2 separate regions of the Homo sapiens genome follow, and region 2 is linked to region 1. Evidence: fine-mapped expression QTL. Tissue or cell type: fibroblasts. Region 1 holds a variant in brackets; the other region holds the start of a gene. All regions are shown on one strand. Distances are from middle to middle.

Region 1 (8,176 bases):
GATCAATCTCTTGGATCAGCTTGGCTCCTACAGGGAGCAGATGCTGAGAGAAAGGTGGGAGTTGTCTCAGTTCTTCTCATGAGATGTATTTATTTATTTATTTTGACACGGAGTCTAGCTCCAGGCTGAGTGCAGTGGCATGATCTCAGCTCACTGCAACCTCTGTCTCCTGGGTTCAAGCGATTTTCCTGCCTGAGCATCCCGAGCGGCTGGGATTACAGGTGCGTGCCACCACGCCTGGATAATTTTTGTATTTTTAGTAGCGACGGGGCTTTGCCATGTTGGCCAGGCTGGTCTCGAACTCCTGACCTCAGGAGTGATCCACCCACCTCGGCCTCCCAAAGTGCTGGGATTACAGACATAAGCCACTGCACCCGGCCTTTATGAGATTTAATCTTCTGGAAGTGACTGAGTGACAACATGAAGTTGATGCCTTTGAAAGAATTGATTACCTACACTTCCTGAGAGACGGGCGCATGCCATGCCATGCAGGGGAAAGCACCAGGTTCGGTCAGCAGGTGGGAGAGAGAGGGAAAGCCTAGGCCAGGGCCTTTATTGCGGTTTCCATGGGAAAGGCAAGGCAGGGAAGGGGAAACAGCTCAGGATTGGCCGCTTTGAATGATGTCAGAGACTCAAGAATGCGCGGCTGGTCTTCAGTGGTCCAGTACCTGGCCCTGAGTGATTCAGGCAGATTGATGTGTGAGGGTCAGATAGAGGAGGTGGCTGGGGTATGAACTGGGGATGGAATGGAGGGTTTGTAATATGATTTTTGTATGCCTGTAAAGGATTTCGGGGGAGATGTTAACCACTTTGGCTGTGTAGGGGCAAAGAGGGAACACATCCTCAGTCACCCTCTGAAGGTTCACTGAAAATGAAGTGACAAAAGGCAGACTAGTAGAAGAAGGCAGCATATAAATGTATTTTTAACATGCATTGCCCAGGGGACTCACAGGAGACTGATTACCCAATAACCCAATGGGGTACAGATACTTCTTAGCCTTTTTCATAGGGGAAGGGGACATGGGGGAAATATGGCAATTTGCGTGATATTCAGTGATTTTTAGGGGGAAATGAATGGCCCTAATGCTCAGACAATGGTTAGTGTCAGGCCTCTGAGCCCAAGCTAAGCCATCATATCCCCTGTGACCTGCACGTACACATCCAGATGGCGGGTTCCTGCCTTAACTGATGACATTCCACCACAAAAGAAGTGAAAATGGCCTGTTTCTGCCTTAACTGATGACATTATCTTGGGAAATTCCTTCTCTTGGCTCATCCTGGCTCAAAAGCTCCCCTACTGAGCACCTTGTGACCCCCACCCCTGCCAGCCAGAGAACAACCTCCCCCTTTGACTGTAATTTTCCTTTACATACCCAAATCTTGTAAAACGGCCCCACCCCTATCTCCGTTCCCTGACTCTCTTTTCCGACTCAGCCCGCCTGCACCCAGGTGAAGTAAACAGCCCTGTTGCTCACACAAAGCCTGTTTGGTGGTCTCTTCACACGGACGCGAGTGAAATATTTTGGTGCCATGACTCCGATCGGGGGACCTCCCTTGGGAGATCAATCCCCTGTCCTCCTGCTCTTTGTCCCGCGAGAAAGATCCACCTATGACCTCAGGTCCTCAGACTGACCAGCCCAAGGAACATCTCATCAATTTTAAATCAGGTAAGCGGTCTCTTTTTACTCTCTTCTCCAACCCCTCTCACTATCCCTCAACCTCTTTCTCCTTTCAATCTTGGCTTCACACTTCAATCTCTCCCTTCTCTTAATTTCAGTTCCTTTCCTTTTCTGGTAGAGACAAAGGAGACGCGTTTTATCCGTGAACCCAAAACTCCGGCACCAGTCACAGACTCGGGAAGACAGTCTTCCCTTGGTGTTTAATTGTGTGGGGACGCCTGCCTGATTATTCACCCACATTTCAGAGGTGTCTGACCATGTGGGGATGCCTGCCTTGGTCCTTCACCCTTAGCAGCAAGTACCACTTTTTTGGGGGGCAAGAACCCCCCAACCCCTTCTCTCCATGTCTCTACCCCTTCTCCACTTTCCTGGGGGGTAATCACCCCCCACCCCTTCTGTGTCTCTACTCTCTCTTTTCTCTGGGCTTGCCTCCTTCACTATGGGCTACCTTCCACCCTCCATTCCTCCCTCTTCTCCCTGAGCCTGTGTTCTCAAAAACTTAAAACCTCTTCAACTCACACCTGACCTAAAACCTAAACCCCTTGTTTTCTTCTGCAACACCACTTGGCCCCAATACCAACTTGACAATGGCTCTAAATGGCCAGAAAACAGCACTTTCGATTTTTCCATCCTACAAGATCTAAATAATTCTTGCCGTAAAATGGGCAAACGGTCTGAGGTGCCTGATGTCCAGGCATTCTTTTACACATCGGTCCCTCCCTAGTCTCTGTTCCCAATGCAACTCGTCCTAAATCTTCCTTCTTTCCCTGCTGCCTGTCCCTCAGTCCCAACCCCAAGCATTGCTGAGTCTTTCCTCTTTCCAATCTTCCTTTTCTACAGACCCATCTGACCTCTCCCCTTCTCCCCAAGGCTGCTCCTCACCAGGCTGAGCTAGGTCCCAATTCTTCCTCAGCCTCTGCTCCCCTACCCTACAATCCTTTTATCACCTCCCCTCCTCACACCTGGTCCGGCTTACAGTTTTGTTCTGTGACTAGCCCTCCCCCACCTGCCCAGCAATTTCCTCTTAAAAAGGTGGCTGGAGCTAAAGGCATAGTCCAGGTTAATGTTCCTTTTTCTTTATCCCAAATTGGATAGCGTTTAGGCTCTTTTTCATGAAATATAAAAACCCAGCCCAGTTCATGGCTCGTTTGACAGCAACCCTGAGATGCTTTACAGCCCTAGACCCTAGAAGGTCAAGAGGCCGTCTTATTCTCAATATACATTTTATTACCCAGTCTGCTCCTGACATTAAATAAAACTCCAAAAATTAAATTCCGGCCCTCAAACCCCGCAACAGGACTTAATTAGCCTCGCCTTCAATGTGTACAATAATAAAGTATAGGCAGCTAAGTAACAATATATTTCTGAGTTGCAATTCCTTACCTCCACTGTGAGAGAAACCCCAGCCACATCTCCAGCACGCAAGAACTCCAAATGCCTGAACCGCAGCAGCCAGGGGTTCCTCCAGAACCTCCTCCCCCAGGAACTTGCTACAAGTGCTGGAAATTTGGCCACTGGGCAAAGGAATGCCCACAGCCTGGGATTCCTCCCAAGCTCTGTTCCATCTGTGTGGGACCCCACTGAAAATCGGACTGTTCAACTCACCTGGCAGCCACTTCCAGAGCCCCTAGAACTCTGGCCCAAGGATCTCTGACTGACTCCTTCCCAGATCTTCTCGGCTTAGCAGCTGAAGACTGACACTGCCCGATCATCTCAGAAGCCTCCTGGACCGTCACAGATGCTCTAGGTAACTCTCACAGTGCACCGTAAGTCCGTCCCCTTCTTAATCAATACAGAGGCCACCCACTCCACATTACCTTCTTTCCAAGGGCCTGTTTCCCTTGCTTCCATAACTGTTGTGGGTATTGACAGCCAGGCTTCTAAACCTCTTAAAACTCCCCAACTCTGGTGCCAACTTAGAC[G/A]ATACTCTTTAAAGCACTCCTTTTAGTTATCTCCACCTGCCCAGTTCCCTTATTAGGCCGAGACACTTTAACTAAATTATCTGCTTCCCTGACTATTCCTGGGCTACAGCCACACCTCATTGCTGCCCTTTTCCCCAGTTCAAAGCCTCCTTCACATCCTCCCCTTGTATCCCCCCACCTTAACCCACAAGTATAGGACACCTCTCCTCCCTCCTTAGCGACCCATCATGCACCCCTTACCATCCCATTAAAACCTAATCACCCTTACCCCACTTAATGCCAATATCCCATCCCACAGCACGCTTTGAAAGGATTAAAGCCTGTTATCACTCTCCTGCTACAGCATGGCCTTTTAAAGCCTATAAACTCCCCTTACAATTCCCCCATTTCACCTGTCCTAAAACCAGACAAGGCTTACAGGTTAGTTCAGGATCTGTGCTTTATCAACCAAATTGTTTTGCCTATCCACCCCATGGTGCCAAACCCATATACTCTCCTATCCTCAATACCTCCCTCCACAACCCATTATTCTGGATCTCAAACATGCTTTCTTTACTCTTCCTTTGCACCCTTCATCCCAGCCTCTCTTCGCTTTCACTTGGACTGACCCTGACACCCATCAGGCTCAGCAAATTACCTGGGCTGTACTGCCGCAAGGCTTCACAGACAGCCCCCATTACTTCAGTTAAGCCCAAATTTCTTCCTCATCTGTTACCTATCTTGGCATAATTCTCATAAAAACACCCATGCTCTCCCTGCCAATCGTGTCCGACTGATCTCTCAAACCCCAACACCTTCTACAAAACAACTCCTTTCCTTCCTAGGCATGGTTGGATACTTTTGACTTTAGATACCTGGTTTTGCCATCCTAACAAAACCATTATATAAACTCACAAAAGGAAACCTAGCTGACCCCATAGATCCTAAATCCTTTCCCCACTCCTCTTTCCGTTCCTTGAAGACAGCTTTAGAGACTGCTCCTACCCTAGCTCTCCCTGACTCATCCCAACCCTTTTCATTACACACAGCCGAAGTACAGGGCTGTGCAGTCGGAATTCTTACACGAGAATTGGGACCGCGTCCTGTACCCTTTTTATCCAAACAACTTGACCTTACTGTTTTGCCTAGCCCTCATGTCTGCATGTGGCGGCCACTGCCACCCTAATACTTTTAGAGACCCTCAAAATCACAAACTCTGCTCATCTCACTCTCTATGGTTCTCATAATTTCCAAAATCTATTTTCTTCCTCACACCTGACACATATACTTTCTGCTCCCCGGCTCCTTCAGCTGTACTCACTCTTTGTTGAGTCTCCCACAATTACCGTTGTTCCTGGCCCGGACTTCAATCCGGCCTCCCACATTATTCCTGATACCACACCTGACCCCCATGACTGCATCTCTCTGATCCACCTGACATTCACCCCATTTCCCCATATTTCTTCTTTCCTGTTCCTCACCCTGGTCACACTTGGTTTATTGATGGCAGTTCCACCAGGCCTAATCGCCACACACCGGCAAAGGCAGGCTATGCTATAGTACAAGCCACTAGCCTGCCTCTTAGAACCTCTCATTTCCTTTCCATCGTGGAAATCTATCCTCAAGGAAATCACTTCTCAGTGTTCCATCTGCTGTTCTACTACTCCTCAGGGATTATTCAGGCCCCCTCCCTTCCCTACACATCAAGCTTGAGGATTTGCCCCCACCCAGGACTGGCAAATTAGCTTTACTCAACATGCCCCGAGTCAGGAAACTAAAATACGTCTTGGTCTGGGTAGACACTTTCACTGGATGGGTAGATGCCTTTACCACAGGGTCTGAGAAGGCCACCACGGTCATTTCTTCCCTTCTGTCAGACATAATTCCTTGGTTTGGCCTTCCCACCTCTATACAGTCCTATAACAGACCGGCCTTTATTAGTCAAATCACCCAAGGAGTTTCTCAGGCTCTTAGTATTCAGTGAACTGATGGTCTTTTAAAAACACACCTCACCAAACTCAGTCACCAACTTAAAAAGGACTGGACAGTACTTTTATCACTTTCCCTTCTCAGAATTCGGGCCTGTCTTCGAAATGCTGCAGGTTACAGCCCATTTGAACTCCTGTATGGACAATCCTTTTTATTAGGCCCCAGTCTCATTCCAGACACCAGACCAACTTGGACTGCGCCCCAAAAAACTTGTCATCCTTACTATCTTCTGTCTAGTCAACTCCTACTCACCGTTCTCAACTACTCATAAATGCCCTGCTCTTGTTTACACTGCTGGTTTACACTGTTTCTCCAAACCATCGCAGCGGATATCTCCTGGTGCTATCCCCAAACTGCCACTCTTAACTCCCTCTTAAAGTAAACAAATAATCTTTGCTGGCAGGGCTATGCTGAACCTCCTTAGGCACTCTCTAATTGGATGTCCTAGGTCCTCCCAATTCTTAGTCCTTTAATACCTGTTTTTCTCCTTGTCTTATTCCGTTCTTTTTTCAATTCATACAAAACCGTACCCAGGCCATCACCAATAATTCTATATGACAAATGTTTCTTCTAACAACCCCACAATATCAACTGTTACCACAAAAATCTTCCTTCAGCTTAATCTCTCCCACTCTAGGTTCCCATGCCACCCCAATCCTGCTCAAAGCAGCCCTGAGAAACATCGCCCATTATCTCTCCATACCACCCCCCAAAATTTTCACTGCCCCAACACTTCAACCCTATTTCGTTTTATTTTTCTTATTAATATAAGAAGACAGAAATGTCATGCCTCTGAGCCCAAGCTAAGCCATCATATCCCCTGTGACCTGCACGTACACATCCAGATGGCCGGTTCCTGCCTTAACTGATGACATTCCACCACAAAAGAAATGAAAATGGCCTGTTCCTGCCTTAACTGATGACATTATCTTGTGAAACTCCTTCTCCTGGCTCATCCTGGCTCAAAAGCTCCCCTATTGAGCACCTTGTGACCCCCAACTCCTGCCAGCCAGAGAACAACCTCCCCCTTTGACTGTAATTTTCCTTTACATACCCAAATCTTATAAAACAGCCCCACTCCTATCTGCATTCGCTGACTCTCTTTTCAGACTCAGCCCGCCTGCACCCAGGTGAAATAAACAGCCTTGTTGCTCACACAAAGCCTGTTTGGTGGTGTCTTCACACGGATGCGAGTGAAAGTTAGTAAATAATTTTCTTTGCCAGTTGAATAAGATGGAGAGCAGACAGTGGTTTGGGATGCAGTTTGCCTGGCTTTCAGTTGTGGTGTTTTATTTTCAGCCTTTTTCTCTGTGATGTAAGTTTTTCTTTCTCTTTTTTTTTTTTTTGAGACAGAGTTTTGTTCTTGTTGCCAAAGCTGGAGTCCAATCTCCAGTGCGATCTCAGCTCACTGCAGCCTCCGCCTCCTGGGTTCAAGTGATTCTCCTGCCTCAGCCTCCCGAGTAGCTGGGACTACAGGCGCATGCCACCACGCCTGGCTAATTTTTGTATTTTTAGTAGACACGGGGTTTCACCATGTTGGCCAGGCTAGTCTTGAACTCCTGACCTCAGGCGATCCACCCACCTCGGCCTTCCAAAGTGTGGGATTACCAGCATGAGCCACCGCACCCGGCCTTGTGATGTGAATTTTAATCTTCTAGGGTTAAGGAAATTTCAGGGAAGGCAACTGTGTTACTCTTTGGCAGGTCCAGTTTCTTGATAGATGAGGGAACTTTCTTCTTCTCCCTCCCCTCCCCTCCCCTCTCCTTCTCTCTTTCTCTCTTTCTTTCTTTCCTTCTTTCTTTCTTTCTCTCTTCTTCCTCTTCCTCTTCTTTTTTTTTGAGACAGGGTCTTGCTCTGTCACCCAGGTTGGAGCTCAGTGGTGCAATCTTGGCTCTATGCAGCCTTGATCTCCCAGGCTCAAGCGATTCTCCAACCTCAGCCTCCCAAGTAGCTGAGACTACAGGTGTGTGCCACTACACCCAACTTATTTTGTTTGTTGTGGAGACAGGGTCTCGCTGTTTCCCAGGCTGGGCTGGTCCTCAACTCCCAGGCTCAAGCGATCCTCCCACCTCAGCCTCCCAAGCAGCTGGGACCACAGGCACACTTGACCACGCCTGGTTAACTTTTAACATTTTTTGTAGAGATAGGGTCTTCCTGTGTTGCCCAGGGTCGTCTCAAACCCTGGGACTCAAATGATCCTCTGGCCTTGGCCTTCCAAAGTGCTGAGATTACAGGCATGGGCCACTGCATGTGGCCTGGTTTATTTTCTTACTTTCCAGATATGTCAGTTTTGCTTGACAGAGAGAAGCTGAGGTGGGCAGAAAAATACTCAGACTATGATTCAGAGCTGAAAGAAAATCTTGGCAAACCTCAAAGGGTGCTTCACAACAAAGATTTTCCACTTGAGGAGTCCTGCGTTTGGAAGAAATGTCCAGGTCATTGGCCAGGAAGTGCACGATCTGGTCTCCCAGGCTATGACAGATCCTGAAGGCATTACAGCTAAAGTAAAGCTAACTATGCTCTGTGGCTGACCCGTGGGTGACATGGTTTGGCTCTGTCCCCTCACCCAAATCTCATCTTGAATTGTAATCTCCAGGTGAGGAGGGA
Region 2 (8,176 bases), 21 kb before region 1:
TGAGCTGGGATTTGAATCTGGGCGGTGAGTTTCCAGTCTTCAGGCTTTTTCTCATCCCCTCCTTGGGACCCATCCGAGGGAAGCAGAACCTCTAGGAGGGGACACTGTCCCTTCTTAAATTCAAGAGCAGAGGGTGCTTCTGGGGTGGCATCAACCCCAGCCTCAGGCAAGAGACCTGCGGCCCCACCCCCCAGGGCAAGGGGATATTTTCCTGTCTGGAGACAGAAGGAAAATAAAATCCTCAGTACAGCAGGGAGGGAGGCACAGAAGGGGGCAGTTTGGATGGAGGGTTGGAGCAGGGGAGATACGGCCCCTGTCCCCGTCCCCTCCTTCCTGGCTGGTGGGGGCAGGGGCCTCAGTCCTGCCTGCCTGAGAGGACATTCCGTCCTGTTCTGTTCCAGCCCTGTTTGTCTTCCTGCCCAGAGGGTGGGGGCGAGAGGGCCTCACGGAGCTGGGGGCCCGACAGGGAACAGGGAGTGGGAACTGGCAGGGAGGTGGGGCCAGTGCCCCACCTCCCAGGCAGCTGGGCTCTGTAATCCTCTGTGGCTGGGCTGCTTCTTCCATAGAAGGAGCCAGCTGGTGGCTGCGGAGGGACCCTCCTTCCAGCTCCCAGCCTGCCCTCTGGATGTTCTACTGGGAAGTGTGGGTCTTTCCCATTACACAGACTGGGGGCTAGTTCCTCTGGCTCAGGGTTCCAATCCTGACTCTACTACTTATCAACTCCACTACTTATAAGCTACTACTTACAAGCTCCACTACTTACAAGCTGTGTGACTGCTTATAAGCTGTGTGAACGTAATCTTGCTCTGTTGCCCAGGCTGGAGTGCAGTGGCTTGATCTTGGCTCACTGTCACCTCTGCCTCCCAGTTTCAAGCGATTCTCCTGCCTCAGCTTCCTGAGTAGCTGGGATTACAGGCTCCTGCCACCATGCCTGGGTAATTTTTGTATTTTTAGTAGAGACAGGGTTTCACTATGTTGGCCAGGCTGGTCTCGAACTCCTGACCTCAGGTGATCTGTCTGCCTCGGACTCCCAAAATGTTGGGATTACAGGCATGAGCCACCGCGCCCGGCCAAGGTTAGACTTACTGTTCTCCCTCTGTGCGTATCAGAGATGGAAAGCATGGGCTTAGGAGCTTCTTGGGCTTTACAGTAACCTGTGGATTACTCTACACGCCCCATAGTGTGGTGTGTGCATGCAATTACATACATGGTTTTTACACAAGCATCTTAAAAGGAGGATTAAATAACAGTGATACTGTAATAATGATAGCATTGGTGTGTTGAACACTCACGGAGCTAGAGAACCCATTAAGTCCTTACTACTACCCTATTGAGCAGGAGAAGTGATCTCTCCTTTTAAAGAGGCAGAAACTGAGATTTGGAGCAATGGCATCCCCAGCCCAAGTAACCCAGCGCCCTCCATTGACACTGAACTATGTTCAACCACTTCTCAGTGAATCCGACCATGTTCCTGCAATGACTTTCCCCATTTTCCGGATGAGGAAGCAGGCCCAAAGAGGTGATGAAACTGAAGCCACACAGCTTTTAGTAGCAGAGACAGGATTCAAGCCAGGTCTGTCTACTCTGACTTGAGCTCAGTTTGTGGCACACCTGTTGGGTGTCCCGCCCCCCACCGTCTGCTTCCTCACTACTGGCTCCTCATCTTGATCTGGGGTGGTGGAAAGGGAGTGTGATACCCAGTTTTCTTTTTTTTTTCTATTTTTCTATTTTTTTTTTTTTTGCGACAAGGTCCGGCTGTGTTGTCCAGGCTGGAGTGCAGTGGCCTGATCTTGGCTCATTACAACCTCTGCCTCAGGCTCAAGCCATCCTCCCACCTCAGCCTCCTGAGTAGCTGGGACTACAGACACTCACCACCATGCCTGGCTAATTTGCTTACTTCTAGTATAGATGAGATTTTGCCATGTTGCCCAGGCTGGTCTTGAACTCAAGCAATCCGCCCACCTCAGCCTCCCAAAGTGCTGGAATAACAGGCCTGAGCCACCGCACCCGGCCTGCCCGTATTTCCAGGATCTGAAAGTGAGGCTCAGAGCGGCAGTCACTGACACAATTCCACACCACCAGGAAGTGGGTGAGATGGGATTTGAACCCTGTCTTTGGGCCCTGTGCTCTTGGCAGGTGTGGCCCCCACCCAAGAGGCCCCTGCCCCACCCCTCTTTTGCCTAGCAGCCTCGGTCCCTTCCCCCGTCACACCCCTGCTGCCTCCAGATCGCCCCAGCTGGCCCCATGCCCAGCCCTGGTCCAGCCCCCTGGCACTCTGCCCAGCTTGGGACGTGCAGCTGGAACCCTGCCACCCTTCCTCCGTGTTCCAGCCAAGAACAGGGGGTGGGGCCAGGGCCTGGCGGGCTCAGGGTGAGGCCTGAGAATGGGGGTTGGGGCCCAGTGCCCCCCTCCAACCAGGAAGGAGAGAAGTTCACCTCTTCCCTGCCCTGAAGAATTTGCCACCCATGAGGAAGGCATAATAAAAGCAGGCAGTCCCTGCCCACATTCAGGGCTACTTCTGGGCTTTTCTATTCTGACACCCAGCTGGGTATTGGGGGGGGGCGTCTTACGAAAAGCACAGAGGATTTGGTGGGTGGGGGTTTAGGTTGTAGCTGGGCAAGGATGCCTTTTGGCATTGCAGAGAGGTGTCCTGAGAGACCAGAGGCAGGGTTTGGGTTTGCAAAGGGACTTGGCATGGGGGTCTGGGGGAGTCTCTCTGCCCCCCGACTCTGCCTGTTCTCAAGGACATGGTAATCTGGTAGGGTGCTGGTCCCCAAAATCCTATCTTCTCCGGGAATACTACCTCACTGGGCACTCTGGGCTGCAAGCCGTACCCACCAGGGACTTCCCAAGAGCATCCTTGGCCACAGTGGGATGGCAGCCAGCCCCAGCTAGAGGAAGGGAAGGGGGAAAGGAGGTGTTGGGGGCCCACTCACCATCGCCCAGGCCCCCGTTGGCTGAAGGGCCATCCAGGGGGTGCAGGAGGGGATGCGGTGCAGCCAGGACCCGGGTGCGAGTTACGAGTGGGTGCGCACGGCGGTGAGATGACTCCACAGGAAAGGGCCGGCCTTGGGTGGGGAGGGGGGGCACCCGAGCTCAGCCAAGAGGGGCCCCCACCCAGCCAGGAGGGGGCGCTGAGAGGGGCGGAACGACAGCTGGCCCAAAAGGGGTGGGATAGAGTTCCTTGTTAGGCCCAGAGCCAGGGCCTGGAATAGAGTAGGGGACAGGGGAGAGGATGGGGGCGGTTAGAAACATGGGGTGTGCATGGATCCAATCAGGCCTGAGAAGCCAGGGAGGAGGGAAGGGGGTGAGGCTTACTGGGTGCCTCACATTGGACAGGGAAAGCTGAGGACCTAGAACATTTTCCAGGGTCCCATGGGAACATGGCCAGATAAAACCCCCCGGCAGCGGCCCCAGGGCACAGGTTCCCCTGTGTTCCAGCAGAGCTGCACCTGCTGGGCAAGTGAACCCAGAAACCCACCCTCTGCCCGGGATGACCCCATCTGAGTACTGCGGCAGGGGGCGTTCCCATCACAGCCTGCAGGCTCACAGCACCCTGCCATGGAGTCTCCCCAAAATAAAGCTTGGATGAGGCTCCCCTGTCTCTCAGGATGGGGGTGCAGGGGTGAGATGAGGGGCTGGACTTTGGGAAGTGGGTCCAGCTTGTTTCCCTGTTATTTAAGGGGGTGACTCTGGCTTTTGAAAGGATACAAAAAGTCTCTTGGGAAGGGTCCCAGACGGCTTCTGAAAGGGGCTCCCCTCTGCCCATTTCTAGGGAAACCCAATGTTTAGGAGACTGTGTCAGGAAGCATACTATTAGAGGAGATCTCTCCTCTCTTGAACTCAGGAGCTGAATGCCATTCCAAGGGACTCCCTATATGTGGGAAGGCTCCATTTAGGGGTATCCCATATCACCTAGGATCCCAGGCACCTGGTGGCAAAGAATACCCTCAATTTTGGGGGGTTCAGAGGCCAGAGGGATCAATATGTGGAGGGCGAATATCTCCCGCAGAAGCCTGGGGACTGCTCAAATGCAATCACCCCTAATTTATCAGGAATCCCAAGTTCCACCCCCAACCAGGAGGGTAAATGAGCCTTGGGTAGCGAGAAATCGGGAACCCCGAAGCCGCTCTTGGCCAGAGGGGCGGGGCAGCCAGAGACGTAGGGAATCCCCCACCCCTGCAGTCCCTAAGGGTGGAGAGTGCGGTGGGGATGTGCCTCCAACTGCGCGCCCCGGGGCGTTCTTGGCTCGCACCCGCGAACCCCACCCCCCCCAACAATCCAGCTCAGGGGTCTCCAGGAGGAGAGCCCCCCAATTCCCAGAACTCCTGCCCCCGAACTTCAGTACCTTGCGCGCTGCAGCCCCAGCGCCATGGCTCGCCAGTCGCCGCTCCGGAGCCCTCGGAGGCCCCTAGCCCCCTCCCCGGCCTTGCGAGCCCCCTCCCCAGCTCCTCCCCACGCCGCGCGGTTGGCTGTGCCACGCCAGGCCTGAGGCTCTGATTGGGCAACGGTATGTCACTCCTGAAAAGGAGGCGGAACCAGAGGGAAAGACTTGGAAAGGCAAGGGGGGGATACCGTGTAATACACACCCCCCAACCACGCCCCTCGCCGCGGACTTCCTCGGCAGTGTATCCCGCACCGTCGGCTGAACGCGCCTTCTCTAGTCCAGCCTCTGAAGTGCCAACGCCAGTACTCTTCTGAACCCACTCAGTTCACTCTGCTCTCTGGACCCCAGTCCCCAGCCTCTAACCCCCACCTCTTCTCACCTTTCCATTTCCTAACCCCAGTTGAGCCCCTCTGACCTCCAATCCCACCCCTTCCAAACCCCTAGCCCTGCCTTCTCTATCCCTTCTAAGGTATTCACAGAGTACCCCACATCTCCTCCCCACCCCCCAACTCCCAACCCCACCCCAGTTCCACAATCCTTGGCCCTCTGGCACCTACCCTTCTCTCTCTCTCCCCAGCCCCTCCCTGCCACCCCAGTCCCATACCCCACTTCGCCCCCATTCCTCCAGTCTGCACCCTCTGCACCCCAGCTTACCTTCCCTACCCCCTCTACTCCACCCTAACCTCTTGGCCTCTCTGACTCCCTTTTCAGGTTCCCATTGATGAATAATTAAGCTTATGTCAAGTAAATATGTTTTAACTCAATCACACCTACTTCAAAAAAGAGCCGAGAAATGTATTTTTTTTTAACTAGTCGACTATGAAGGGAGAAGTACAAAGGTACCAAGCAAGGGTGAAAGCATTACAGTTGGATAAGGAACAGAGTGTGTGTGTGTGTGTGTGTGTGTGTGTGTGTTGGACCACTATTCTGGATTTGGTTGGCAGGGAAGAGGATACTACAGCAGAAGTGGCCTTGTTGAACCTTGAACTTGCCAGGCAAGTTGCTCACCTTAGGGCCTTTGCACTTGCTGTTCCCACAGCTTAGCACACTCTTCCTCCAGGAATCCACACGGCTCCCCGGCTCACGCCAGTTCCCCACTCTGTTTTCTTTTGGGAAACCACTTCTCTGTCCTCTTCATCTATTTAATTTGAATAGGGCTTGGCCACTGCTCTGCCTTCACCAGCTCCAGGGATGGACATAGGATCCAAACCTGGCTAATCAGTTGAGTCTGCTTCCCTGGCCACAGTGATTGGTTCAGGGAAGGCATGTTACCTAATTTAGCCCAATGAGAATCAACCCTGAGACATTTGCTGAAACCATTAGGAAAGAGGATTTTCTATGTCTGCTGGAATTGCTGGGCAGATGGAGCAGATGGGGCTCACACTGCCACAAAGAGAGGAGAGGCTTTATGAGATGAGGTTCAGTGCAAAAGAGATTGTGCAGAAATGAACGATTGTGAAAGGCAGTTTTGACACCAGCACTTGAGTGCCTGGATCCAGCCATACCTGAACTCCAGTTTAATTCTTGGATTTTTCAAATGAAACCCACAATGGGCTTTTTTTTTTTTTTTTTTTTTTTTTTGCTGTTGCTTTTGTCAAATATTGCTTCATTCACTATTGCCTTATTTGCTTTGTGCTTAGATTCGTTTGAATGGATTTTAGATACTTGCACCCAAAAGAATCTTGATAGAGAAATCAGCTTTCAACCCTCAGTGTAGAGGCAGGTGGGATGTTAGAAAAGGAGCAGTCTGAATTATAAAGGGGGGCCGGCCATGGTGGCTCACGACTGTAATCCCAGCACTTTGGGAGGCTGAGGCGGGCAGATCACCTGAGGTCAGGAGTTCAAGACCAGCCTGGCCAACATGGTGAAACCCCATCTCTACTAAAAATACAAAAATTAGCCGGGTGTGGTGGCACACCCTTGTAATCCCAGCTACTCGGGAGGCTGAGGCAGGAGAATCGCTTGAACCCAGGAGGCAGAGGTTGCAGTGAGCCAAGATCATGCCATTGCACTCCAGCCTGAGTGACAGAGTAAGACTCTGTCTCTAAATAAATAAATAAATAAATAAATAGTAGAAGGGGCTGCAGAGGAAGCATTGTTCTTAGAGCTTCTTAGGGTTTAGGTAAGGACATGGGGTAGAAGAGATGTTCAAGGGAGAAACTGAGGAAGGGGAGTGGTTGTTAACAAGACAACGAGAGTTCCAGTGGGTGTGTTGGAAGAGTTTGGAGGGGGCAGTAGTTGGATGATAGATTCAGTGGAAGAACTCATTGATTTTGGTATGAGGGAGTCACAGCAGAGAGCCAATCGGAGGGATTTACAGTGCCCAAGAAAAGCTGGCACTATTTCAACAAACATTAAAATAGAACTAACACTTTACACACAGAGATGCAACAGGTGTCTCTCTACGATGTAGGTTAGCGTTAAACTTCGCTCAGAGGTTCCCAGCAGCTAAGGCAATAAGGGAAATGTGTCCGTTAAAATGATTTCCAACTTTTGCTAAAGGATATGTTCTTGTTTGAAGAGACAAGTTTTGTACCTGGAACTGAAGTTAAGTGGGAATTTAAGACCTTTTAATATTAAATTGTAGAGTGGTCTGAACTGCCAGGAACTGTGGGAGCTTGGTGGAAGCACCTTACCCACCCTGTCGGGGCTGTCAGAAAGGTTTATTGTGGAAGGGGCATTTGGATGCAGACTTAAGAAGGAATAACAGTGAGGCAAGCAGAGAGAGGGTTGGGGACAGCCGAGTGCAGTGGCTCTCAACTGTAATCTCAATGACTCAGGAGGCTGAAGGGGGAGGATCGTTTGAGGCCAGGAGTTTGAGACCAGCCTGGGCAACATAGCAAGATCCCATCTCTTAATTTTTATTTTATTTATGTATGTATTTATTTATTTTTTGAGACTGAGTGTTGCTCTTGTCGCCTAGGCTGGAGTTCATTGGTGCGATTTGGCTCACTGCAACCTCTGCCTCCCAGGTTCAAGCAATTCTCCTGCCTTGGCCTCCTTAGTAGCTGGGATTACAGGCATCTGACATCACGCCTGGCTAATTTTTGTATTTTTAGTAGAGATGGGGTTTCACCATGTTGGCCAAAATGGTCTCAAAATCCAGACCTCAGGTGATCCGCCCATCTCAACCTCCCAAAGAGCTGGGATTAGAGGCATGAGCCACTGCACCCGGCCTCTATCTCTTTTTTTTTTTTTTTTTTTTTTTTTTTGAGACGGAGTCTCGCTCTGTCGCCCAGGCTGGACTGCGGACTGCAGTGGCGAAATCTCGGCTCACTGCAAGCTCCGCTTCCCGGGTTCACGCCATTCTCCTGCCTCAGCCTCCCGAGTAGCTGGGACTACAGGCGCCCGCTACCGCGCCCGGCTAATTTTTTGTATTTTTAGTAGAGACGGGGTTTCACCTTGTTAGCCAGGATGGTCTCGATCTCCTGACCTCATGATCCACCTGCCTCGGCCTCCCAAAGTGCTGGGATTACAGGCGTGAGCCACCGCGCCCGGCCCGGCCTCTATCTCTTAATTTTTTTTTTTAACTTTGCCAGGCATGGTGATGTGCACCTATAGTCCCAGTTACTTGGGAGGCTGAGACGGGAGGATTGCTTGAGCCCAGGAGCTGGAGGCTGCAATGAGCTATGATTGTGCCACTGCACTCCAGTCTGGGCAACAGAGTGAGACCTCATCTGTAAAATAAATAAATACATGAATGAGAGGGCTGGGGGAAAAGTATTGTAGGCAAAGGGAAGATAATACAACAGTTTGGAGGCAAAAGAGAGCTTGGCACATTGAGGGAAC

The links. PIP is the estimated chance that this variant, and not a neighbour inherited with it, causes the effect.
Region 2: it holds the start of HIF3A, and the variant in region 1 is fine-mapped to the expression of HIF3A in fibroblasts (GTEx, PIP 0.91).

Annotation. Positions count from the first base shown.
Region 1 is chr19:46,271,779-46,279,954 of GRCh38, reverse strand. No RefSeq gene overlaps it. Among named protein-coding and RNA genes, the nearest start is that of HIF3A, 21 kb to the left of the region's middle. RefSeq lists an enhancer at 8,042-8,176. The variant G/A (reference allele first, on the strand shown) is at 3,602.
Region 2 is chr19:46,293,275-46,301,450 of GRCh38, reverse strand. HIF3A (hypoxia inducible factor 3 subunit alpha) reads right to left here and starts at 4,409. Exons shown (of 15, transcript NM_152795.4): 1 at 4,349-4,409. The coding sequence starts at 4,374.